Homo sapiens: one gene and its partners. The protein of the gene in region 5 interacts with the protein of the main gene of each other region in a pairwise test. Each region holds a gene or a part of one and is shown on either strand. Other genes may lie near its edges. The genes, in order: MKI67, GOLGB1, MYH7, RNF168, ECPAS, GAREM2 and MAL2.

The links.
Region 1: the proteins of ECPAS (region 5) and MKI67 interact in a two-hybrid assay, tested with the Homo sapiens proteins (one large-scale study listed by BioGRID).
Region 2: the proteins of ECPAS (region 5) and GOLGB1 interact in a two-hybrid assay, tested with the Homo sapiens proteins (one large-scale study listed by BioGRID).
Region 3: the proteins of ECPAS (region 5) and MYH7 interact in a two-hybrid assay, tested with the Homo sapiens proteins (one large-scale study listed by BioGRID).
Region 4: the proteins of ECPAS (region 5) and RNF168 interact in a two-hybrid assay, tested with the Homo sapiens proteins (one large-scale study listed by BioGRID).
Region 6: the proteins of ECPAS (region 5) and GAREM2 interact in a two-hybrid assay, tested with the Homo sapiens proteins (one large-scale study listed by BioGRID).
Region 7: the proteins of ECPAS (region 5) and MAL2 interact in binary tests that used the Homo sapiens proteins (3 or more experiments, as listed by UniProt).

What each region holds. Positions count from the first base shown.
Region 1 is NC_000010.11:128,112,924-128,116,423, forward strand, and holds part of MKI67 (proliferation marker protein Ki-67), read right to left. Parts: intron 3,085-3,500; coding exon 2,005-3,084; intron 680-2,004; coding exon 504-679; intron 1-503. UniProt on the Homo sapiens protein: Protein that associates with the surface of mitotic chromosomes and acts both as a chromosome repellent during early mitosis and chromosome attractant during late mitosis.
Region 2 is NC_000003.12:121,739,742-121,743,241, reverse strand, and holds part of GOLGB1 (golgin subfamily B member 1), read left to right. Parts: intron 1-3,500. UniProt on the Homo sapiens protein: May participate in forming intercisternal cross-bridges of the Golgi complex.
Region 3 is NC_000014.9:23,432,861-23,437,064, forward strand, and holds the start of MYH7 (myosin-7), read right to left. Parts: upstream 2,801-4,204; 5' UTR 2,760-2,800; intron 1,390-2,759; 5' UTR 1,334-1,389; intron 881-1,333; 5' UTR 873-880; coding exon 672-872; intron 368-671; coding exon 224-367; intron 1-223. UniProt on the Homo sapiens protein: Myosins are actin-based motor molecules with ATPase activity essential for muscle contraction. Forms regular bipolar thick filaments that, together with actin thin filaments, constitute the fundamental contractile unit of skeletal and cardiac muscle.
Region 4 is NC_000003.12:196,486,769-196,490,268, forward strand, and holds part of RNF168 (E3 ubiquitin-protein ligase RNF168), read right to left. Parts: intron 1,916-3,500; coding exon 1,839-1,915; intron 811-1,838; coding exon 631-810; intron 1-630. UniProt on the Homo sapiens protein: E3 ubiquitin-protein ligase required for accumulation of repair proteins to sites of DNA damage. Acts with UBE2N/UBC13 to amplify the RNF8-dependent histone ubiquitination.
Region 5 is NC_000009.12:111,365,884-111,369,383, forward strand, and holds part of ECPAS (proteasome adapter and scaffold protein ECM29), read right to left. Parts: intron 3,291-3,500; coding exon 3,152-3,290; intron 745-3,151; coding exon 639-744; intron 445-638; coding exon 356-444; intron 1-355. UniProt on the Homo sapiens protein: Adapter/scaffolding protein that binds to the 26S proteasome, motor proteins and other compartment specific proteins. May couple the proteasome to different compartments including endosome, endoplasmic reticulum and centrosome.
Region 6 is NC_000002.12:26,171,699-26,175,887, reverse strand, and holds the start of GAREM2 (GRB2-associated and regulator of MAPK protein 2), read right to left. Parts: upstream 2,801-4,189; 5' UTR 2,668-2,800; coding exon 2,556-2,667; intron 2,027-2,555; exon of another isoform or gene 1,891-2,026; intron 1,594-1,890; exon of another isoform or gene 1,016-1,593; coding exon of another isoform or gene 910-1,015; intron 1-909. UniProt on the Homo sapiens protein: Probable adapter protein that may provide a link between cell surface epidermal growth factor receptor and the MAPK/ERK signaling pathway.
Region 7 is NC_000008.11:119,214,863-119,218,362, reverse strand, and holds part of MAL2 (protein MAL2), read right to left. Parts: exon of another isoform or gene 2,736-3,500; intron 1-2,735. UniProt on the Homo sapiens protein: Member of the machinery of polarized transport. Required for the indirect transcytotic route at the step of the egress of the transcytosing cargo from perinuclear endosomes in order for it to travel to the apical surface via a raft-dependent pathway.

The DNA of each region.
Region 1 (3,500 bases), on a different chromosome or scaffold from region 5:
AAACCCAGGAAGGACAACACAGCAAAGGAACAGGCAAGCAAATATTCTAAAGAGCTGAAGGTGTAAAAGGAAGATGTGCCATTGATTTTCCTTCACACCAGGTAAATGCCTTAACTATAGCCTTGTAACTCTAAAAGAAAATAAAACAATCCTTATGGGTCGACGTGGTAATGTATCCAGAATCTTTGTAATTGGCTATTCTGACGGTGCCTGCAGGTGATTACGCAGTGCTGTAAGCGTGGGTGTCTGGGAACTTCTGCACGAAAAGGACAACATCAAGGACTCCCCCGACTCGGTCGCATCAGCACCACGGTCAGGGACCCAGGGGCTCCTTTGCTGGTGCCCACATCAATGAGCTTTCATTCGTCTTTTTAAAAACTTGTTTCTTTAATAAATAAATAAAGGTCTTCATCATAATTCTACTTGTGTCAGTATTTGGAAAGGAATAGGTACCCGGTGTGTGAGCCACTGGGCGTGAATGGGATGCTGCTTGTTCAACTCACCTTGATGATTTTCTTCAGGACAGGTGGAGTGTGCATTACCAGAGACTTTCTTTTGGTTGGGGCTTCTCCCCTTTTGAGAGGCGTATTAGGAGGCAAGTTTTCATCAAATAGTTCAGGTCTTAGGTGCCCACCAAAGGACACACGCCTTCTTTTCAAAGGTATTCCCTCACTCTCATCTAAAGTAACGGATACAAATGTGGAAAGAGCAATGAAAAAACATACCAAGACTAGTGATTTATTTCACGTTAGCATTAAAGACAAACCAAGTGAAAAGTCATCGAAACACAGTACCTACAGCACGCCTCTATTCTTGCAATCCTGGTGAAGCTAAGCTACTAAGAGTTCCTAAAGGATTGCGGGAGTGGCCACTAAGACGTCAAGTTGCCACTGGACAGTACAGAGGCTTTCTTTAAAACATTGAAACATTATGTGTGGACATAGAAAGGAGGAGTCTGCAGCAGCAGATTTCACCTTAGAGTAGGGGGACGACAGCCAGAGAACTCTCTAAAGACATGCACTTGGGTCTCAGCCTGAGCCACCCAGTGACCAGAATGCATGAGCTGTAAAAACTCCTCCAGGTGGTTCTGAGTCAATTCACAGGAGCCCAGTCCCGGCCACACATTTTCCTGAGCCACCAGTTAATGTAAATCCCTTGCCTAAGTGATGCTTCCCCACTAGGAAGCTTGGTGGAATACTGAGACTGATGTTACAAACCTTATTTTATCGACAGCCTCATGCCCCACCGCTATAGGCCACCTGCAGAAACACAGCCTGGAGTACGAATACTGCGTCTGTGGCCCAGACAACTTTTCTTCTAATAGCCAGTCCCTAGGAGTGTAGGAAGCTCCCGAGGAGCTACCACACCTGCTATAAAGGTCCTACCTCTGCCACTTCCTGACTGGCCTTGGGTTGTGCGTTTCCTCATGTGTGACATAGCTCTAAAAAGACAACCTAGCCACGGGCACTGCTATTGCACCAAGGATCAAGTGTTCATGTGGCATATGGACTCATGGGTACAGTCCAGTGTTTACAGCAAATTGTTTGTAGGACACTCTGAAAACAGAGTATCAACACCTGAGAACTACCGCTATGTTTAATGATTACCAGTGATTTATTCCACATGACCAAACTCATATGATACAGTTGATTGTAGTTCAGAATTAAACTCCATGTGAAAAGCAATTATGATTATTCTCTTTTCTATTTTGTGATAGATGGAGGAGAATCAAATATTTTTGGGGCCACCCTATCTCCTTCAATAACCCCTGCTTCATGATTGCCTGACAACTTCCATCTCTTCTGTCATTCCTTGTTACAATTACCTAGGCCTTCAGTATTCATCTATTAGCGAAAACAGCGTGCGTGTCTGTCTTATCCCTGTGCCTTATGTGCTTACATTCTCTTCCACAAAGCTAATCACTACTGAAAGAATGAAGGTCTCACAGCTACATAGAAGGTGTTCATCTTTTAGAAAAATAAATTTACAATTAAATAAACTTACTAATGGAATCACCAAAGTTGTTGATATCAACTGAACTAAGACCAGGTAACCCAGAGCACATCTGTCCAGCTGTAGTGCCCAATTTCTCAGGCTTGCTGAGGGAATCCTTTTGGATCTTCCTCTCAACTTGAGTGAGCCACAGAGTTAAAAATGGCTCATTGTGAATTTCAGTTTCCGTAGGCAGAACTTCCACATCTGTAGGAATACTTCCTCTGGTTTTGGAAGAGAGATTTTCTGGCTTAGTGGCAGAGTCAGCTGCATCTTCAACTTTAGCTGGTGTTCGATTTCTAGTTGAAAGCTTCCTGGGAGTAAGAGTTTTATCACCAGCCTTGAAGCCTTCACTTTTACCCAGATTCACAGATTCTCTTCTACCAGTAGTATACAGGTCTTTGTTCTTATGTTTTTGTGGAGAATTTTGTTGCTGTGAATATTGTACAGGGGTCTTCATTTTAGCCGGCTCATAGAGAGGAAAGCTGGCGCCCACAGCCTTGCTGGGAGTCTGAACAGACTCCACGTCTCTTCCCTTCCCCTTGTTCTGGTCAAGCTCTTGTTCAGGTGAAGCAGGCTCTGCCACAGCGTGGCCGCTCCCACCAGATTTTGGTCTTGACTTACGCGAGACCAACAGTTGGGTCTCCCCCTGTAAACCATCAGCACTTTCTTTCTCTGTTGCGTAATCAGTTTGTAATCCAGATTTTCTACAATACTGTAGGACATTTTCTTTTTGTGATTTTACATCCAACTCTTTCTTCACTGACTCATAAAGCTTCCAAAAGGGAGATTCATTTTTTTTGCTATTGTCAAGACATTGTGTAGTGGGAACAGACTTCAATTCTCCATAACGGCTCACTAATTTAACGCTGGAAATTTCTTTAAAATCCCCAGAAATGGGATCAGCTGCATTTCTGCCATTACGTCCAGCATGTTCTGAGGAATGAACATTAGTTGTTCCCTGAGCAACACTGTCTTTTGAGTCATCTGCGGTACTGTCTTCTTTGACATTCTTGATATGTACCTGAGGATTTCCTGAAACTTTTCCTTCAGTGATTTTTGAATAGGCCTTGGAATCTTGAGCTTTCTCATCTTGGCAATGAATTATGAAATAAGAAACAGAAGTTCAGCATTTTCTCAATGATTAACATTTGTGGAATTCAATATTTTAATTGTTTCAGGTTGTCTTATAAGCTAGCTTTTACTTGGCCTACAAATTATTTAATGCCTAAAACTTGCAAGTCTTATGATACTAGTATTATGATACAAATATATAAATCATATCAGCTCCAATAACCAGTATGAAATAGCACATGCTATCTAACTACTGAGAACTGAGTTGACAGCTGAACAGGCAATTTTCTCATATCTAGAGTCTCTCCTAAGCATAGCATACCATCAGTCACCAAGGGAAAGTTAGGCATCTGTCTGTCGTTGACATGTTAAATGACACCTCCTCCATTTCTGACAGGCTAGACATTTAGCACTTGCATTCTTGTTGCCCCTTC
Region 2 (3,500 bases), on a different chromosome or scaffold from region 5:
ATCCAGTCTGTCATTGATGGACATTTGGATTGGTTCCAAGTCTTTGCTATTGTGAATAGTGCTGCAGTAAACATACATGTGTATATGTCTTTATAGTAGCATGATTTATAATCCTTTGGGTATATACCCAGTAATGGGATCACTGGGTCAAATGGTATTTCTAGTTCTGATCCTTGAGGAATTGCCACACTGTCTTCCACAATGGTTGAACTAATTTACACTACCACCAATAGTGTAAAAGCATTCCTATTTTTCCACAACCTCTCCAGCACCTGTTGTTTCCTGACTTTTTAATGATTGCCATTCTAACTGGTGTGAGATGGTATCTCATTGTAGTTTGGATTTGCATTTCTCTGATGACCAGTGATGGTGAGCATTTTTCCATGTGTCTGTTGGCTTCATAAATGTCTTCTTTTGAGAAGTGTCTGTTCATATCCTTTGCCCACTTTTTGATGGTGTTATTTTTTTTCTTGTAAATTTGTTTAAGTTCTTTGTAGGTTCTGGATGTTAGCCCTTTGTCAGATGGGTAGTTTGCAAAAATTTTATCCCATTCTGTAGGTTGCCTGTTCACTCTGATGGTAGTTTCTTTTGCTGTGCAGAAGCTCTTTAGTTTAATTAGATCCCATTTGTCTATTTTGGCTTTTTTTGCCATTGCTTTTGGTGTTTTAGTCATGAAGTCTTTGCCCATGCCTATGTCCTGAATGGTATTGCCTAGGTTTTCTTCTAGGGTTTTTTATGGTTTTAGGTCTAACATTTAAGTCTTTAATCCATCTTGAATTAATTTTTGTATAAGGTGCAAGGAAGGGATCCAGTTTCACCTTTCTACGTATGGCTAGCCAGTTTTCCCAGCACCATTTATTAAATAGGGAATCCTTTCCCCATTTCTTGTTTTTGTCAGGTTTGTCAAAGATTAGATGGTTGTAGATGTGTGGTGTTATTTCTGAGGGCTCTGTTCTGTTCCATTGGTCTATGTATGTGTTTTGGTACCAGTACCATGCTGTTTTGCTTACTGTCGCCTTGTAGTATAGTTTGAAGTCAGGTAGCGTGATGCCTCCAGCTTTGTTCTTTTTGCTTAAGATTGTCTTGGCTATGCAGGCTCTTTTTTGGTTCCATATGAACTTTAAAGTAGTTTTTTCCAATTTTGTGAAGAAAGTCATTGGTAGCTTGATGGGGATGGCATTGAATCTATAAATTACCTTGGACAGTATGGCCCAGTGTGCTGTAATTCTTATTCATACATATTCAAATTATCCTTTTAGCCAATGGGAACCTGTGTCCTTTGAAAGCTTCCTATCTTGTATGACAAGATGTTTCAGGATCATTTTGTACATTTCCACTTTAGAAATGGAATTAGCCATTTCTCTAAGAAAACCTTCTTTTAAAAACTTTTTTAAAAATGGGAAAGAGTATTTCAAGACCCCAATCTAGGCACTAGAGATATTCATTGCTTCTCAGTTTGTCATTACTTTTAAGCCTTTTTGGTGGACAGAGCTAGGAAAATATGTGAACAAATATAAAATACTGAATTGTCATTTCACACTGAGTGTTCCTATTCAGATTCAAAGATTAGTTTGTATTTCGGGGTTCTTAATTTCTTCTGTATTACATCTGTATCTTCTTTTCATAACTGAAAATACAGAATTAGTGTATCCATAATTATCATTTGCTTTAATTCTACATTTCACATATAGTAATCTAGGAGTGATGATACGAATATCACCACCACAACCACTTTAGACGAGATCGGGTGTGTTCAGGATGGTATGGCCGTAGACAACAACCACTTTTAATTATTGAAAACTGTTTAAAAATATTTTTTATTTTTTGCATATGCTATTCACATTCTTCCCGATTTTTTTTCATGGTTGTCCTATATATTGTCAGAGCATATAATCATTACATACTATGCTGTCTCTCCTCCAGTCTTTACTTAGTCTTAATTCTGTTAGTAACCGTATATTTAATGCTCACCACTAGTTCTTATAATGATGTTTCTTTAGTCATTTGGATTGCCTCAAGTTTTGCCTCTAGTAAATTCTTTAGGAAAGGCTTAAGGGAATATTCATATTTCATGAATTTTCTTGCTCGTTCATAACATTTTGTCTGTGTTTTTTATATCTAAAGTTTGTGTTTGCCAGAAATAGAATCCTTGGCTCACTTTTTCTTTTCTTGAATATCTTAAATTTGTAACTCATTTTTTTTTTCTGGCAAAAACATTGCTGTTGAAAAATCTAGTGCTTTTTTTTCTTTATCTTACTGGTCATATGATCTTTTAGCCTAAAGCCTAAAGGATTTTTTTAAGTCCAGTAATTTTACTAGAGTGTTTTGTTGGTCATTCTGAGTTGACATTCTGAGGTACATTGTGGGCTCTTTCAAGATGTAGTTTCAAATCTTTTTAAAAAAAATTTTCAAATAAATATTCTTGGATTATGGTTTTTCATATTTGTGCTGTTTCTTTGCTTTGCTTTTCTTCTTCAGGGAATCCTGTTATTCACATTACTTATCTTCAATATTTATCTGTTTCTCGCAAATCCTATGTAACTCTTAATTTCTTACATTTTTTAAAAATAAACAAATTATTAGGAATTATTTCAGATCACTACAGAAAGTTTACTACAGAAAATTTGCAAAGATAGTGCAGAAGTCTGGTGTATCCTTTGCTTAGTATTCCCTAAGATTAACATGTGACATTAGCAGTGTACAAAATTAAGAAACCAACATTGGTACATTAATATTAACTGAACTCCAGACGTTGTTCACATTTCACCAGTTTCTCCATTAATGTCCATTTTCTGTTCCAGGATTCAATTCAGGATATCATGTTGCATTTAGTTCATTTCTTTTTCATTTGTTTTTTAAATATGAAGACAATTGTAGAGTCACATGCAGTTGTAGGAAATAATCAGAGCTCTTTTATACACTTTGTTGTTTCTTCCAGTGGTAACATTTTGCAAAACTAATACATAATATCACAATTAGGATATTGAGATAGATATATTCCCCAGTTTTACTTGTATATTCATTTGTATATGTATGTATGTGTATCATTAAGTTTTGCAGTGTTATATCACCTGTGTAGGTTCCTGTATCCACTGCCACAGTCAAGATATTGAACAGCTGCAACACCACAAGGATCCCTTGTGTTGCCTTGTTATGACCACAGTCACTTCCCACCCCAACCCCTCTCTAACCACTGGTAATCACTCATCTTTCCTCCATTTCTAAAATTTTGTCATTTCAAAAATGTTATAGAAGTATGGAATTGTATAATATGTAACCTTTTGGGACTGGCTTTTTTTCATTCAATGTAATTTTCTGGAGATCCATCTAAGTTGTTGGGTCCATCAGTAGTTCGTTGCTTTTTATTTCTGAGAAGTATGTGATGGGATGTATGTACCAGTTTGTTTAACCATTTGCCTGTATATATCAGTTTGCTTAACCGTCTATTAATAGAAATAAAGCTGCTATGAATGTTTATATACAGCAGGTTCTCTTGTGAA
Region 3 (4,204 bases), on a different chromosome or scaffold from region 5:
TAGAGAAAGATCCCAGGAGAGAAAGAAGAGAAAGGAAAACCTCTGCATGCACTCAATCTGAGTAATGCCAGTCCCCAGAGTGTTGGAATTGAACCAAGGATGTTGGGACGAGGTTAGAGTGTAACCCTGCCTAGACACAAACAGAAGACACTCTTGGCTCCTGGGGTGGACATGGATGGAGCAAGAACAGAGATCCCAACGTAGGGCCAGGTGCAGCACTCACGTAGATCATCCAGGAGCCGTAGCGATCCTTGAGGTTGTAGAGCACCGCGGGCTCATGCAGGAAGGTCAGCATGGCCATGTCCTCGATTTTGTCGAACTTGGGTGGGTTCTGCTGCATCACCTGGTCCTCCTTCACGGTCACTGTCTGCAAGAGCCCCCACCCAAGCCCTCCTGTCAGCCTGGGCTTTCCCTCCTTCCTCAAGAGGGTTAGGAGTTGGTGAGTGACAGGGCAATAGTGCTCAAGAGAGAAGGAACCAGGATCTCACAGGGAAGACAGAAGGGATATTGGGAAGGAGAGGGCTCTTTGGAGGGTCTGGATTCTTCCCCAAAGGGAAGGAGAATGGGACCATCCTCAGGTCTGCATGGGCATGGGGCATGGGTGTACCCCTCTCTGTCCACCCAGGTGTACAGGTGGCCAGGGTGGACTCTCACATCAGCCTGACACCCACCTTGCCATACTCGGTCTCGGCAGTGACTTTGCCACCCTCTCGAGACACGATCTTGGCCTTGACAAACTCCTGTTTGTCATCAGGCACGAAGACATCCTTCTTGAGGTCAAAAGGCCTGGTCTGCGCTTCTAGCCGCTCCTTCTCTGACTTGCGCAGGTAGGGGGCGGCAGCCCCAAAGACTGCCATCTCCGAATCTCCCATGGCTGTGCCTGGAGTGAGCAGAAGCTGGCTGCCCTCCCATCTGCCCATTCTTCCCTTCCCTCCCTGGGCTCTCCCCTTCAGTGGGAGCCCCAAAACCTAGCACCATGCTCAAGAGTCAAGAGGAGTTACCAGTGAGTCCCTTCCTCTTTGAGGTTACCCCTTAACCAGAGGAGCAGCCTAGCAAACCTGCCAGGGTAAAAGGAACAACTAACTATTGTTCAAGCTGGGGCTCTCCTAGGGGAAGGAAGAGCATTCTGAGCTCCCTGTAGGAGCAGAAATCTAACTATTTCCATCTCTGACCCTCATCTATCCCTGGACCCCCTGGTCACAGGTAAGTAGCTCTTGATAGCCAAGATATTCTCTCCAGCACATGGCAGAAACTAGAGTTCCATAGGCTGGCTTTGGGGCTCTAATGCCCAGTCTTACTAGATTTTCAACACTCTAGCTTCAGCTTTTCTTACCTGGGCTACTCAAGTGTGTCTACAGATGAGGAAAGGGGCCAAGGCCTGCAGGGGACCTGGAGAGAGGGAAGAGGCTGTGTCAGGGCAGGCTGTGCCCAACCTGACCAGTCCCACCTTCCTGCTTCTCCCTGGCTCTGTTCTTCAGCATCCACCCTCTTCCAAAACAAGGTGGAAAGGGTGGTCAGCTTCTCTGGTCCCATCCTTCTTGTTTTTCAAACCCTATTCCCTTTTTCCTCAAGAACTAGTTCTAACAGCTTCCTGGTGTCAACTCAACCTGAACCCTAATCCTCTTCACTCCTGCGAGATGGTCCCACCCCTGCCTGTACCCATCTAGTGGTACCTTTCTTTGAGCCATCTGAGAGACAACTAATGGTCACATTTGTTCGGCACTTTCCAGTCTAAAAGCACTTCAATGCACTTTCTCCTACTCAGTCTTCACCCCATTTGACAGATGAGGAAATCGAGGTTAAATGGCTTGCTTGGCCAAGAGCCCATGACAACAAGTGGGAGAGCCAAGACTTGAATGCAAGTCTGATGACTCTAAAGAGACTTCTTTTCCATCCTGTCCCCATTTTGTTGTCAGACTTTGTGGACATTCTCAGAGAGAAGACACTGTGGGCTTCCTCTCACAGACACACCCATCACATAGCCAAACACCCTCCACAAGCCCTCTGATGAACACTCATGCCTGCTGCTTGGGCATGCCTCTCACATGAAGACAGGCTTCCTTCCCATACCTCAATCCGCACCCCAACCCCAGGGTGCCATATATGCCTCAACAGCAAATGTGCACATTTCAGGATGTGTGCCACGTAAGTAGATCACATCACTGCGTGTTCTTCAGTACACAAAGACCTGGAACATCCTACACCCCCGTGCCTGTGAGTTCCTTCTGCAGAGGGTACAGATACTATAACAGTCATGACTCGTGGAGGCATAGACAAGAACCTCTGCATGCATGGACAGGGGTAGCTACACATTCCAGGCCTCACAGAATCACATGAAGGCATACACACTTCCTAGAATCCTTCTCCACCATTCTTTCTCCCTCCCTGCAAAGGAACCTCCTCGTTCACAGACGTGATCATACACCCACATCTCCCACTTGATATTTCTGTATCAGTCAGTGAGGTACATACCCTTTCTCACATTCAGACTATGCAGGCTTGTCCACACACACACACACACACACACACACACACACACCCTGTAATGCATATTGGTCCCATATGCTCAGATGCAGATATCTTCCCCTAGGAACTCCTGTGGCACATACGCCCATGTTTAGACCTGCACATGTGTGCCCAGTGACTGGACCTGGTACTCTGCATGAAGTCCTGCATGAAGCTTGCTATTCCAAGAGGAATCCCTTCCTAAGCCTGGAGCCCCCTTATCCCAGAGTAAAGCCTCCAGCTCCCGCTCCTACCTGAGAGCAGCAGGGAAAGACACAGAGCAGGACAGAGCTGTGGAGCCAGACCTGGTCTCAGGGGCTGTATATATGGGGCAGCAGGGCACCCCCACCCCCAACGGCACCCAGTCCCTAGCCGGATTTAGAAAGGGCTGTTGTCACTAGAAGCATTTCCCCCAGGCTCCCCCCCTTCCCAAACAGTGCTCCCCTCCCCGCCTCTCCAGCTAGGAAACAATTGGAAGTGGTCGTCATTGTTATGGCATGGACTGTGCAGGGTCTGAGTTCCAGGGGGCGGGGTGGCTCAAAGTGCAGCAAAAATATCTCCCAGGCCAGGCCTCACATTCCACAGCTGGCAGGAGAGGGAACTGACCACGACCACCAAGACCACAGGCAGCCAATGTCCTGGCTCTCCCGCAGGGCACTTCTGGCCCTGGACACTGCTCCCCCTCCAGTCCCCTGCTGCGAGGCCCCTGATGGCCTGGCCGCATTTCCACAGTGTCCTCCCTGCTCTCCTGGCCCAGGTCCTGTATCCAACTGGAAGCTGGGAAGGGGCTGAGTGTCAGCAGCAGAGAAGGGTAGGACAGAGTTGGGGGCATGGCCCCAGGGTGAGGCAGCTAGACTGGGGCAGCTGGAAGGACATTTCCTAGCCAGGTGGCAAGAACAATAACCATGGAGCTTAGAGATGGGGACTCTGGCTCAGGCACTGATTTCCTTGGACCAGCAGGCAATGTGTTGAGGTCACCAAGCCTCCGAGCCAGACAGGCCTTTAGCAATCCATCCAAGCACTTCATTTAATGGAGAGGGACAGTGCATTCTTTAAGGTTATACAGCTAATCGGGGCAGCAGGATTCAAGGTGGGAAACCTCAGCAGATGGGAGTGGAGCCCGGCCTGTGGAGGGTAGCCTGGAAAGGTGGGCTGGGATTCCAAAGATGTGGGGACCCCCTATGCGCAGAGAGCAGGACCCAGCTGCATTGGTCCTAGTTTGGAGCGGTTTGCCTGACTCACGTTCCTGGCTCTGCCCCACAGGTACTAAAGGCCTGAGCCCAGAGACAGACCCTCTCAGAGCTATAGATAATACAACTACTTGGAGCTGGAAGGAGACCCCTAAGACAGCTGTTGTCTGGCCCACCCAGCCTCAGCTTTATCCAGAGCTGGAGGCGACTAGTGTTCTGGCAAGTGAGGCAGAGTAACAGGACAGGAAAAATCTTCCCCTCTGCAGGCCTGAGGAACAGCCACAAAGGAGGGGAGGAAAGGGAGCTGGGGCCCAGCCTACGAGCACAGAACACAACCGATGCCATGCTCTTCTAGCAACGGGGCATGCAAGCTTGACTGGCTCCGTGTCTAGGCAACCACTGCACGATTTGGTGTGAAATCTCCCCCTTCTTCCCAAGCACAGCTCTTCCGCGCATGCGGATTAGTCCATCTGATTAGCTGTCAGCTTGGAAGGAGTGAGGCAGGCCTG
Region 4 (3,500 bases), on a different chromosome or scaffold from region 5:
ACATATAAAAAAGTTGTTAAACAACTTGCGGTGGCTCACGCCACAAACCCAGCACTTTGAGACGCCGAGGCAGATGGACGGCTTGAGCCCAGGAGCTCGACACCAGTTCAGGAAACATGGCAAAGCCCTGTCTCCACAAAAAAGTAGCCAGGCATGGTAGTGCCAGCCTGTAGTCCCAGCTACTCGGGAGGTTGGAAGGATCACCGGAGCCCGGCCGTCGAGGCTGCAGTGAGTCGTGATTGTGCCACTGCACTCCAACCTGCATGACAGAGTAAGACCTGTCTCAAAAAACAAAAAACCCCAAAAACCTGGATTAGAGCAAATATGTAACAATATGCAAAACAATTTTACTTTAAGTAAAGCAAAAATGTTATCAATAGCTTCTAATTATGGCAACGCCATCTCTTCTGTTCTTTGAAAACCACAGTCAAAGCAATCGGAATGTTAATAGTTAGCTTTCCGTATCAGCAGGTTCCAAACACTCAAATCCAACCAGCCTGGGGTGGAAAAGACAATATTTGTGGGATGCAGAACCTGGAAATACAAGGAGCTGACTCTTCCCATGAGCGGGTTCTGCAGCAGCGCATACCAAGGGATGACCATACCTTAGCGTTCCCTCCTAAAACTTACAATATCAATGCTTAGCTTTCTTGCCAGTTCCTCATCACTTTTCAGTTGTTCTTCCATCGCTCTTCGCCTTTTTTCTGCCTGTCTTTTTTCCTCTTCTTCCTCCTCTGCCAACAACCTCTGTATGTATTCTTCACTGGCTTTGTTTTCTTCTTCCTCGCTGGCCCGTCGCTCTGCCGCCACCTTAAAAGTGATTAATAAAGAGCAATCCTTCTCTGAACGTTTTGGTATACTTGCAATATTTCATAACAAGAATAGAAAAGTAGAAAAAGAACAAATTGGCAGAAATTTAAATGATCTCAAATGAAGTACAAATCTGGAGAAGTAGATTCCTGCAAGATAGCTGTCCCATCTCAGCCTCCCAAAGCACTGAAATTATAGGTGTGAGCCTCCACACCTAGCCTGAGATGTATTACAAGTGAAAATTATACACAAAATTTTGAAGACTAACAAAAAAAGAGAAAAATCTCTATTTATGTATAACTTCATATGTAATTAAAACATAATGCTTCACTATAAACACTGCTTTTTAGGTACTTTTCCTATTTAGGAACTTCACAGCTAGCCCTTTAACCTTTCCTCATCTAAACTCACACTCTACCACCCTTTTACTTTAAGCTCAAAACTTTGGGGAAATAAAAATATATCCTGGTATGGATTAAATTAGGAAAAAGAAGAATTAAAAAATTTTCTTCATATGTAAATGCTTAGGGAACACTATCACATAAGAGCATTAATTATGTAGAAGTAAATTACAGCAAAAAACAAAGCCCTTATAAAGTACATTAAAATTATCCATATTTTGGCCAGGCACAGTGGCTCACACCTATAATCCCAGCACTTTGGGAGGCCGAGGCGGGCGGATCACAAGGTCAGGAGATCGAGACCATCCTGGTGAACACTGTGAAACCCCATCTCTACTAAAAATACAAAAAAATTAGCCAGGCGTAGTGGCGGGCGCCTGTAGTCCCAGCTACTCGGGAGGCTGAGGCAGGAGAATGGCATGAACCCGGGAGGTGGAGGTTGCAGTGAGCCGAGATTGCGCCACTGCACTCCAGCCTGGGTGACAGAGTGAGACTCCATCTCAAAAAAAAAAAATTATCCATATTTCAAGATATACTAGTTATATAAGCACAAAAAACTAAATTAAAATCTGAAACTAAAAACACAGCAGAGAAATATTCCAAAAAAAAAAACTATTTAGCACCTACCTTGCTTATTTCCTCTTCATATTCTCTTCTCAGTTCCCCAGGTTTACTGAGCAGACGAACTGGCTGATAGTCATCAGCTATTTCATATCAAAAAAGAAAATAACATTATAGGCAACACAATTTTATGGTAACTTTGGTCTTCCATTAAAACGAAAAATTAAAATATACAACTATTAATAACTGCAGCAATATCTCCTTTTGGAATTCCATTTTTAACATTTATTTTATTTATTTATTTTAGATTTATTTTATTTATTTTTTTTGAGACAGAGCCTTGCTCTGCTGCCCAGGCTGGAGTGCAGTGGCACAGTCTCGGCTCACTGCAACCTCCACCTCCCAGGTTCAAGCGATTCTCCTGCCTCAGCCTTCTCCTGAGCAGCTGGGATTACAGGCATGCGCCACCACACCCAGCTAATTTTTTATATTTTTGGTAGAGTCAGGGTTTCACCACATTGGCCAGGCTGGTCTCGAGCTCCTGACCTCAAGTGATCCACCCGCCTTGGCCTCCCAAAGTGCTGCGATTACAGGTGTGAGCCACCACGCCCGGCCTGGAATTCCATTTTGTGAGGCCAGAGGTTTAGGGTTTTGGGTTTGAAATGGCATATGAATGCATATACTTAACCCTTCCTCTAAACTCCATTAAAATAACAGTAAAGGAATTTTTAAAAACTGTAATCCTACAACAGCAGAAATTAGCAGAGGAGGTTAACTGATTAAAAAAAAATGTTTTTTTTTTTTGAGACAGAGTCTTGCTCTGTCACCCAGGCTGGAGTGCAGTGGTGCAATCTCAGCTCACTGCAACCTCCGCCTCCCGGGTTCAAACAATTATTGTGCCTCAGTGTCCTGAGTAGCTGGGATCACAGGCATGCCCAACCATGCCCAGCTAATTTTTGTATTTTTAATACAGACCGGTTTTTGCCATGTTGGCCAGGCTGGTTTCGAACTCCTAATGTCGGGCAATCTGCTCACCTCAGCCTCCCAAAGTGCTGGGACTACAGGCGTGAGCCACCGTGCCCGGCTCCAGTTAAAAAATTTTTAACAAATTTCTAGAAAATGGGAAGGCAATGAAATAGAGATAATTGATACAGCAGAAATGAAGGAAAAGAAATCCTTGAAAGGGAAGACTACAGCTGAGGTAGAATTAGAAGGGAATCTGCCTCCTATTTGCCTAGAGAGAGGCTCATAGAGTCCAGAGTGAGTAACCGTGGGACTGAAAACAGAACTCGAGATTTATAAGCTGTTAAATCAGAATCCTCGACTTACCGGCATTTCTCCCTGGATATGGGTGCAGGTGCACACACGCATATTTCTTTAAAGAAACAGATCTAGAGAGAGCCAGAGCAGCTAATGTAATAGGTGGTGACCCAGAGCAAAGTCCTCTGCGATCGGGCAGTTAGGGATGGCAAAGCACAAAGGCCAGGTTTCCATCGGCTTGAACTCAACGTCTGCCCATCACCAATACCCTTCCACATACACAGAGCTTTTCTCCTGGGCCTCATTCTCAAACCTAAAAGCTAATCCAAGGATCGTCAGACATTTGAAATACATCTGCAGGACTAGGGAAACAGTAAGCTATACAAAGAGAAAAAATCATCACCCTGGAGTTGAAAGATAATTCTGGGTCAGAAAATAACCTAAATGTGGGTATGTATCCTCAACAAA
Region 5 (3,500 bases):
TGACAAAGCAAATGGCACAAAATGTTAACAAATGATTCTGCATAAAGTGTATACATATTGCAGAGTATTACATGTACTGTCGTTGCAACCATTCTGTAAGTTTGAAATTACTTTCAAGTAACAATTTTGTAAAAATACTTGTCACGAAGGTTTTTCTAAACTAGATGCTAAAATCCTGTTATAGTTCCAGATTTAAATATTCCAGTTAAGGGGTACACATGGAGTATAATAAGTAGCAGAGTCCAGTAGCTATTTCAGAAATTTAGTTCCTAAGACAAAGTAGGAAATATTTGAAGCTCAGCTCCTTAGCTTTAAAATTAGGACTCCCTCATCAGTTTTAGTTTACTACACTCACCTAAAGAATATGTGATTGATTTACAAGTTTCAAGCAGAATTTCAGCCAAAGCCTCAGGATCGGCATGTTCTTCTTCCAAAAGCATTAACCTATACAAATCAGAAAGCAAGGTACAAATGCCAATTATTAAGAAACAGTCTAAAACTTTCCTGTCACAATTTCTATCTGTATGTATCACTGTCACTTTAGCTACCAGTTTTTAAATGTATAAAAATTCCATTGATTATACATAAAATGCTGCGGGGAGGAACAAAATAAAAAACTGAGCCATGAAGCAATTTACCCCTGAAAAAAGGCATTCATTGATTGCAGGACTCCTAGCTGCACTTTCCACGTGCTGAGTTTTAGCCGTTCACACATCAGTTTGCACAGCTCCTGACGATAACAACCTGGGAAAAAAAGACAAGGTGGGACAGAGCAGGAGACAGTATAAAAGAACAAGAGATGGAATAAATGAGGGACAGGCAGAGAGAGCAAGAGAAAGGAAGAGGGAAAGAGAAAGAGAGAAGGTGGGGAGGATAAGAGAGAGAAAAGCAGGAAAAAGAGAAATAAAACAATAAATACTTTTAATTAAAGCCATTGAAATTTCCCCAAAAACTTCAGCATGACTTTGTACTCAATCCCCAAACAAATTTCCTTGATCAGAAACTGCCCCCACAAAGGTGCAATATAATTGTTCACAAATATTCACTTTCAAGGCATATGGTTCTCCATGGAACTGAGAAAGCACTTTAACCACACTCCCTTTGCCCCTCAAAACTCCCTGAATGACAGCCACAGAAAGAACTCTGGAGGCCAGAAGCTCCTCTCTAGATGCTCACAAGCTTCTGCAAATTGCAGGTTTACCAAGAGTCAACAGTGCTTTATTATAAACCTGTTATGCCAACTGCAACTGTAATTATAACTATATAATTAATATTATGCCAACTGATGAATCAGCAGAAAACTCAACAACGAAGTTATTTTTAATTACTGTAGGATTTAGTAGGGCTCAAACAAATGTAAAAATGGGGGGAGGCAATAAAAAATCTAGAATTCTGCACTAGGATTGTCTCATAAGAGCTTGAAATTTCTTTCTCTGTTTTAAAGAAACAAAACCCAGAAATTGTAGATATATATGAGAAGCCAATGTGTAACAGTTAAGTTCCTAAAGAAAAGGCCTTGGTTCTCAATAAATGCACATTTCTATTAACAACCTTCTATGTCTTATATTAAAATAAACTGCTTTATGTTTGTATCATCTTTCTCATATAATTCCCTACTTTAGCTTTCTCTACCTATCAAGGAAAAGTTAATACTCTTTATGGCATCATATTAGTGGACTTCCATGGCAGTCTATAACATAATATTAAGAAATAAAACCACCTGCAAATTTGTATCTTCTGGGAAACCCTTCCTATAAACATAGCAAATATATAAGTTCACACAAAGGATGACAGGGCTCAAAGAGAACCTTAACTGATTCTAGACATATCCAATCACAAATAATCAACAGTACTTTTTATAACATTCAATAATATTGTCGCTGGGCATGGAGGCTCATACCTATAATCCCAGCACTTTGAGAGGGAGGCCAAAGTGGGAGGATCACTTGAGCCCAGGAGTTTGAGACCAACCTGGGCAACATAGCAAGACCTCACCTCTTCAAAAAAAATTTGCTGGGTGTCGTGGCATGCACTTGTAGACCCAAATACTTGGGAGGCTGAGGCAGGAAGATCACTTGAGCCCAGGAGGTAAAGGCTGCAAGAACTGCACCACTGCACTCCAGCCTGGGCAACAAAGCAAGACCCTGTCTCAAAAAAAAAACAAACAAAAAAAAAACGAATACTAAGATCTTCAGCAGGATGCACTGTAGGACCCAACACAAGGCAAGCTTAAAGGGTAGCATCATCACTTCTTGGCCTTTTGGCTAAGATCAAGTGTAAAGGGTAGTATCATCCCAAGGTTAAGGCCCTGTCAGGGGACTCCAAACTAACTGCAACCTCATCCAATAATAGAGGTTTACTGTTCATTTAATCTTTGGGAAATACATGTCCAGTTCTGAAAATTGTCCAAATAGTAATGAGTTTTTCACTGAAACAGGGATTTCAGTTGCTTACTGAACACTTGGTAACAAGACCATTCATTTCAGGATAAAGAGACCCTGCTAATAAACTTTGTGCATTCCTCTGAATAGAGCTATGATCATCAAGAAGATCAGTAGAACTCGTCTATCAAACTATCTGCATAAAATGTATCATGGTTATTATAGGTGGAACTGTGCCCCCAAAATTCGTATGTTAAAATACTATCCCCCAGTACCTCAGAATTTGACTGTATTATTATTAAATAGAAGACAGAGCCTTTAAAGAGGTCATATGAGTGGGCCCTAATCCAGCGTGCCTGGTGTCCTTATAGGAAGAGGTGATTAGGGCACAGAGACACCAAAGACCACGTGAAGACACAGGGAGAAGACAGCCATTCCCAAGCCAAGGAGAGAGGTCTCAGGAGAAACTAACCCTGCTGACGCCTTGATCTCGAAATCTCAGACTTCTATCCTCCAGAATTGTGAGAAAATAAATTTCTGCTAAGCCACCCAGTCTGTGATACTTTCTTACAGCAGCCCTAGCTACAGCGGTACAATGATCAGTGAGATCACAGACTCATGTAGACAAAAAACTTTCACTGGATAATTCTCATTATTAATCAATCAGGCTCGATAAGAAACAATAACTATAATTTGTCATAGAGAAAATTCTTCGCTCTCATTAAGTAACCTCTGGTTACAGCACTTCAAATGCAGTTTCTGGTGCTTACGTTGGGTCTCCGCGTTTCGCGGCCAGGCTTTGCCCAGGCTTTCAAAGGCACCCAGCAGATATTCCAGCTGGAGCTCCTTTTCCTTTTCATTCTCCTCTTCATTTTTGGTTGTCCGGACCCCACTGCTTTCAAGTGAGTTCTAGGATATATCAAAGAAAAGAAAATGTAATATTTTCTTCTTCAAAGTTACAGGTATACTATTAAAGCTATCAGGGTACCAACCAAGGCAGGAGATATTAACCAAGAGTTAAATGATAAATTCTCTACCATAAGTTTCCCTATTTACAACAAGAATTTATAACCAGAATACTGTATCTCTAATAAATTTAGGCAATACTTTACAGGCATC
Region 6 (4,189 bases), on a different chromosome or scaffold from region 5:
GAGACTTTATTGAGCAGGAGATGCTGGAGCTGTGCTTCCCAGTCAGGGCCTAGGCCCTGCAAGAAGGGCCCTACTGGGGCAGTGGAGAGGGCCCGGACGGGACTGTCCCTTATAAGGTCCCAGCTGTGAGAGCTCCCCCAGAGCCACGGGTCGCTCAGGTCAGGAGAATGACAGGGCTTAGAGCAGCTGATTACTGCCTCTCCCAAGGGCAGCCCTTCCTTTCCACCCACTGCCTTGTTCAGGGGACCTCGAAGGAGAGGGGGGGAGTCCCCAGAAACCCCCAACCCCATCTCAGAGAAGCCACCCACTGCCTTGTCAAGGGGACCTCGAAGGAGAGGGGGGAGTCCCCAGAAACCCCCAACCCCATCTCAGAGAAGCAGCTCCTTGACACCCCCTCCCCACGCCCCCTCATCCTCCCAGTTACAGGGGTGACGGCTGAGGGTTGGAGGGGTTGAGAGAGCAGGTTTAGAAGGCAGGAGTGGGAGGCCCAGCCCTGGGGCCTGGGGGAAGCTGCTCTGGGGCAGAGGTGTTGGGAGTTGGGAGGGGTCTGGGCCTGGAGGCGCCAACCCCAGCAACGGTTTCCAGGGGAGCAGGAGGGGCAGCCCAGCTTCCAGGAGGCAGAAGGGGCTGTGTCCGGGCTGCAGCTGGTGGGGAGGGTGGGGGTAGGGAGTACCTCCTTCCTTTCTCCTTCAGGCACAACTTACAAAATTTCTGCCAATCAAATGGGAAATGGTTTACTCTGATGGCTGGGGGCTCCATAAAATGTGTACATGTGGGGTAGGCGTGTGTGTGTATGTGTGTGTGTGTGTGTGGCAGGGTGGCGGGCGGTTCAAGACGCACAGGAAGGGCCTGGCCCCCACTATGTGTGTGTTGGGGGTGTTGTCTAAGCTTTCCCCTGTACCTCCTCACCTCCGGGGGCCCAAGAAGCTCTCCTCCAACTCTGCTCCCTCCTCTGAGAGCTGTCCTGGGTCCTAGCCCCATCTTCACAGCCACATGGGCACACAGCAGTAATCATGGCTCATGACCACCAACAGCTGAACCACAATAGCCCACAGTGACAGATGCTTGTCACCCAAACAACATAACTCAGTCTCCGGCCAAGGGGCCCCTCCCAAATGCACAGGCACACAGGGACCTACCCTTCAAGCCATACAATTCTGACCAGACATTCACACCCTGATGGTGACCCAGCCATAGCCACACACTGTCACACACAACAGACAGCTGGGCCATCACACCAGTTGTTCATTCACTCACCCATTCATTCAATCCATAATCTTTATTGGGCAAGGATGCCTGGTCTCAAGGAGCCCACAGCCAGGTCTAAAGACAATAAACTGACTGACCATTATAATGGGGTGCACAGTAGGAGACAAGCCAGAGTTGGCATGAGGTGGCCGGGGAGCCCAAAGGAGGCCCTACGCAGACCGAGGAGCTCAGAAAAGCTGCCCAGAAAGGGGAGATGCCAAAAAGGATGTGTGGGAAGTGGCCAGAAGACCCCAGGGCAGCGACCTCCATTCACAGGCAGACACAGTACCACACTCTGACCACTCGGCCGCGAGCCAGAGAACTAGACGCTGGCCTGCCCGACGGCGGGGCGCCGATGCTCCCCCATGAGCCTGCTCCCGGGACAGCTGACGCCCACTGTGCCCACTCCTGGCCGCCACGGAGGAGGGGCTGCCGGGCCCCACGGGGAGACGAGGAGCCTGCGGCCGCGGGCCCCATTAGCATTCATGGAAGCGAGTGTGCCAACGCGGGCCAAACCCCTATTCTTCTCACACACAAAACCCCCGGCCTGGCTGCCAGCCCCGGCTACCGCCCATCCCCCAACCAAGCAGCACCCCCCTCCCCCCAAACGGTCCCCTCGCTCCATGCAGCCTCCGGGCGTACCCTCTCGGGCCCCCATGCGTGGTTCCATCAGCCGAGCGGCTGGGGGCCCCAGGTCCTATTAAGAAGTGGGACAAGATTCGGGGGAGGGCCGGGAGTTTGGGGGTCACGCCGGGCAGCAGACCCGGCTCCCGCCGGCCTCTCCCGAAGGTGGCCTGCCCGCCCCAGGACCGAGGCTGCTCCTAGGGAAGAGAAAGGAGGTGCAAGAAGGGTCCCCAGAGGGGCGGAGCAGGACTAGGGGTGGCGGTAAGGGGAAGACAGAGTCCGGGTCCCAGGGATGAGGGAAGACAGAGGTGAGAGGCCAGGGACAAAGGGACCAAGGGGGCGCGGCCGGGGCGGGGGGCCCAGGGGCAGCGGGGGAAAGGGGGGCAACCGACGGGGCGGGAGCAGGGGCTCGGCCCCTTTCCGGACTCCAGCTGGGCGGGAAAACTCTGTCCCGGGCCCTGTCCCCGGTGTCTGTGCCTGTGCTTGTCCGCGGGGCCCAGGAGGCGGACCTGGCGGGTGGGCCCCGCGTCTCCCGGGAGGCGCGCCAGGAACCGCTCGGGGCCCACGCCGGGGAGCTGGGAGGGTGCGGGTGCCGCACCCTCCTCACGATCCCTCTGGCCCCTGGCTGGAGAGCCCACCATTTCCCCGCGGACCCCGGTCCCCATCTCCAGCGACCCCGGTACCTGGCCCAAGGCAGGCGAGCGTGGGCAGGCGGCAGCGGCTGACGATGAGGTCGAGCGGGAAGGCGCCCATGCTCCAGCGCAGGCCGGCCAGCCCGGCCGCCAGCTTCTCCATGGCATGGGCGCCCCGGGGCCGCCGTCCCGGGGCCCCGACGGTCAGTCCCGCGCGGCCCAGGCTCTCGCGCCCGCCGCCACCTCCCGGGGCCGCCGCGGCGCTCGCCGCCTGGCAGCCCCGCCGGGCCGCGGGCGTCACGTGGCCGGCCTCCCCGCAGGGCGCCGACCCCGGCCCCGCCCCCGGGCCCCGCCCCCTCCTCCCGGACCCCGGCCCCCTCCTCCCGGACCCCCGCCCCCTGCTCTGTCCGCCCCGACCCGGACTCGCCGCCGGACCCACCCCCGGACCTCCGCCCCCAGCCCTGTCCGCCCTGCCCCGCCCCGGCCCCCTCTCCTCGGACCCCGTCCCCGCGCCCCCTTCTGGGACCCCGGGTCCCCAGCCCCGCGCTCCGTCCGCCCGCCCCTGCCCCCGCTCCCCGGCCCCCACCCGCCGCTGCCGCCAAGCCCCGCCTCCCCTCCCGCCAGCTTCCCCGCGCCCAGGTGACGGCGGGTGATGGAGGACCCCAGGGCGGGCGCCTGGAGGGACAACGAAGTCCCGAGCGGCATCTGCGGAGTCGGCGCGGGGTCGGCCTCCTCCTTCTGGCTGGGTGTGTCCGGGCCCCGCCGCTCCCCCTCGTGCTGGCCTCCCGGAGGCCGCGCCCACCCGCGCCCTGTCCTGCTCCGCCGCCCAAAGCTCGGGTTCTGAATTCTGCTCTTCCAGGACCTTCATCACCTCCGGCTCCGTGGAGCTGGGCGAGGCAGCCTCCTTAACCCCATTTTACTGATGAGCAAACTGAGGGGCAGAGGTCAGGTGGCAGCCAGGACTTCAACCTAGGTTGGACTTCAACCCAGATTTGACTCCAACCCTACTGCCCAAGAGCACCCTACAGCGCCCCACCATAGAGCACCTTCCACGTTCCCAGCGCCCCCTTAGCCGATAGCCCTGTGTCATGTAAACCGGCGCTCCAACCCTTCCACAGCACGCGGTGTGGACTGCGTCCATTCTGCAGATGAGGAGGCCGAGGTTCGAGGGCGTAACCGGTGCTGCGGTCTCCTCTCGGATCATTACAAGAACCGCCTTCCTCCCCCACCGCCACCATCCCTTCTCTCTTTTCCTTCTCTTTTTTTGAGACTGGGTCTCACTCTATCACCCAGCCTGGAGTGCAGTGGCGCGATCTCGGCTCACTGCAACCCCCACCTCCCGGGCTCAAGCGATCCTCCCACCTCAGCCTGCGGAGTAGCTGGGATGACAGGCACCTGCCACCACTCCTGGCTAATTTTTTTGTATTTTTAGTAGAGACGGCGTTTCACCATGTTGGCCAGGCTGGTCTTGAACTCCTGACCTCAAGCGATCCTCCCGACTCGGCCTCCCAAAGTGCTGGACTTACAGGCGTAAGCCACCGCGCCCAGCCTTCGTTCCCTTCTTTTAATTTGCGTTTCCTTTTCTGCTGTCCTCACCTCTTCCTTCCAAGCCCCCTGGACTCCAGCTCGGGGCCTCCCTTTGGGACCCCCTTCCCAGAAGCTTAGATGGCCTCGGCCTCGGCCTC
Region 7 (3,500 bases), on a different chromosome or scaffold from region 5:
CGTACTCAAAATTACAGCCCTTCAAACACCTCAAAGGCTTGGAAGGGAAACTAAATGCTGCATGAACAGGAGTCAGATTCACCTCCTCACTTGTGGGGTATGTGCTGCATGGAAAGGGGAGAGGGAAGGAGTGTAGGAATGCCCCCTCTCTCTCACTCAAGTAAATACATATGATACATCCCTAGAGCTGAGATTCTGTGAAATCCAGGCTCGCTTTGGAAGAGAGAGGATGGGCCAGAGAACATAATTGAGCCCACTTTGGAGGGCCACCATCCTCATTTTGAGACTGTCATACTGGTGTATGGATCACTCTGGCCTTGACACAGTTATTATTCCCTACTTTGTGATTTCCTTTTGACAAAAGCTACTTTTCTTCTTGAGCTTCCCAACTTGGCTCCAACTTAAACTTGGCTCCAGTTTTTTTAAGTTAAAAAACTGAACTTAAAAAATTGAGATGACCAATGCTCAGTATATTCACTTCCTCTAATTCCGGGCATTAGTGAGCTTAGAGTGTTTGCAAAACGGTGTAATTATCAGCATTCCTGTTCAGTAGAGACGACTCTGGAGGTGGCCATATTTTTAGAAGTAAAAAGCAGAACACAAAAATGGTTAAATCTGACAGAGAACAGATGATAAATACAGTAGCAACTGCAGAGTACACACTGTGAAGAAAGGTATTCGGAACTATTATATGTTTCGCCCACGTTATTCTCATCGTCTTGGATCTGAATCCATATTCTGACCCCTTCCCTGCCACTGCCTTCCACTGCTTTCTAGTGTTCTAAAAAATCCAATAATTATGTATAAAATAGCCAAAGGCACCTCAATTTGAAATTTCTTTAAGAAACTAAGTCAGTGCTTATGACGTCAAACCTCAAGCTCTAACAAAAAGACTACCTTTGCTTCCAGGCAATACAAAGGTAAAAACCTCCTAGGAGTAGGTATCAGCATCTCCCGGTGACTCAGTCACCTTTTATCTTCTTAACCCAACTTTAGGTGTACTGGGTACATACCAGAAGTACTCAAATATATTCTGAGTTGCAGTTATTAAATTGCTACACATTCCTAAAACAACTGATCTTCTTTCTGGTTTAACACATGTTTGTTATGTTTGCTTGGTCTCTGCAGACCAGAAAGGTATGACTTGGCTGAAACCCTACCATAAGAAAACCACGGAAGTATTTATCCACAAATCACACTAAACTGAATCCTCAGGGTTTGATGTGAAGACATGTTTTCACTAGAAACTGTGGAATGGGAAAAATACATAGTCCCACGGGAAAACATGCTCTTGAGCAAGTAGCAACTCTTGCAATTCTGGGTGCATGAATTACAGATTCTTAACTCATCTCCTGTTTGGACGGTCTTATGTTCCCAAAGGGTTCCTTTTGCAAATGCCCTTTTTCTTTTCAAATGTCACTTATTTCCTAATTACCTGCTTTTAAACATACCCTCTGACAGCTAAAAATTTTTTCAAACCAATTTGACACCTCCATCTTAGTATACCCACAAAGTAAACCGGCTAATTTCTACTGTGACCTATTTTCAATTAATGTTTGGAATGAGAACAGGAAAAGGTAAGTGAATTTGAAAGGATAAAGGCTGGCTAAACTACCCATAAGGGAAAACACTATTTAGAACTTTCCGTATTAAGCTCCCTCCTTCTAATTCTATTATCTATATATTGGATAATTCATTATTCTACTGCAGTGAGAATGAACACCCAGCAAACATAGAGGAAAAGCAAAAAAATATTTGTCTTCCAGTCTGGCTTGTAGAGTTAGAGTAAGAAGTTGAAGCTAATGGTGATAGCAGAAATAGTACTTAACATTTACTGAGCTCTTATGTTATAAGCACCGTTATAAGGGTTTTATTTGTGCCAATTTAATCCTCACAGACCTTGAGAGACAACATTATTATTCCTACTTTATAGGTAAGTTAATTGAGGTACAAATCCATTCATAACTTGTTCCTAGTTATATAGTTAATAAGTGTTAGACCTGAAATTTGAACTTGGCAATTGGCTTCCAGAACTTATGATTTTAACATTCTGCTATTCTGCCCCTCTCATGGTTTAGTGTTCATTCTAAAGCAGGGTTTCTACCCATATTCCATATGATTTCCTAAAATCATATAAAATTGGGTGGACAAGTACATATGCATTTTTCTGAGGACACAGTCCACACCTTTCATCAGAATCACAAAGGGGTATGTGGCCCCCCCACCCAGAAGTTCAGAACACTTTATCTACTTGTAACCCCTTCTATTTTAATGGATGTTTACTTATGGGGTGCTGCACAGGAAACATCATGGTTATAGAAGTGTTCAGTATATTCAGAAATTTATCAGCTAGAAAAAAAAAGATTATCTACAATTAGCTATATTTTACATACAATTCGCATTTTGAAAGATTTCCTTAAACTAGAAACATACTTAGCCAACACATACAATATAACTGGTAGATGTATTTACAAAGCAGCCCACACAAGTATGGATTCATTCACAATGCGACTGTAGATCACTGGTACCACTACAAGGCATACTGCTGCCCCCCTCCCCAAGCTCATCATCTTCCCTGTAATGCTTCTTTTCCTACCACCCTCTCTTTGCATTCCAGCCTCTACCCCTCATCCCCTGAGCATAGAGAAATGATCACACTTGACCATGTTTCTGCCTAGCATGCTGCCAGTAAAAATTCTGCTGCATAACTAAACTCCAGTTACCATGTTTTCCAGAAAGACTTCCCTGGCCAGGTGCCATCCCTCGGTGCTTCCACGGTTACTGACGCGTGTATTCTCCACAGCAATTACAACTGGATCAAAATCATGGATCTACATGCCCATTTCACCCACTAGACTGTGACGTCAGAGTCGGTGACATTGCCTTCAACATCTCCGTATGCTCATTACCCAGGGTGGTGCTTTCTACAGAAGGTCCTCAATCCATCCTCCTTGAAATGAATGGAAACCAACCGGCATGTGTAATGAATGGTTCCAAAAGAGAATGCTCTAGGAGTGCAGCTTGGGATGCTAGGAACACACTCCGGTCTGGAGCCCAGCTCACTCCCTGGTTCATGGTGGATGTCCAAAAATAGGCATGAAAACGAGTGAAGCGAGAATATGTACTTCTCAATTCTCAAGTTATTATTGGTGACACCCACCACCTAGTACCAGATCTCAGGAGGCTGAGATGGAAAGTTATGGGAAACTTTGTACCTCTTGCCAGTTGAATTCATGACACCCAATTTTAAATCTTTTTTCGGCCCCAAATTTGCCCACATGACCTATTTCTATTGTAACTGCCACTGGAACTTTTGACCAGGGTAAATCTTGTGCCTTCTTCCAGTGCCTCCTGCTCCCCTCATCAGTCCCCATCTGTCCTCTAACCATGCTGACTTCTGTCCAAACTGCTTCTGGACTGGCCCTGGCATAGACCTGCATTAGAGATGCAAGGCAGCAAGGTGTTTATTTATTTAGTTAGTTAGGAAAACAGAACAAATT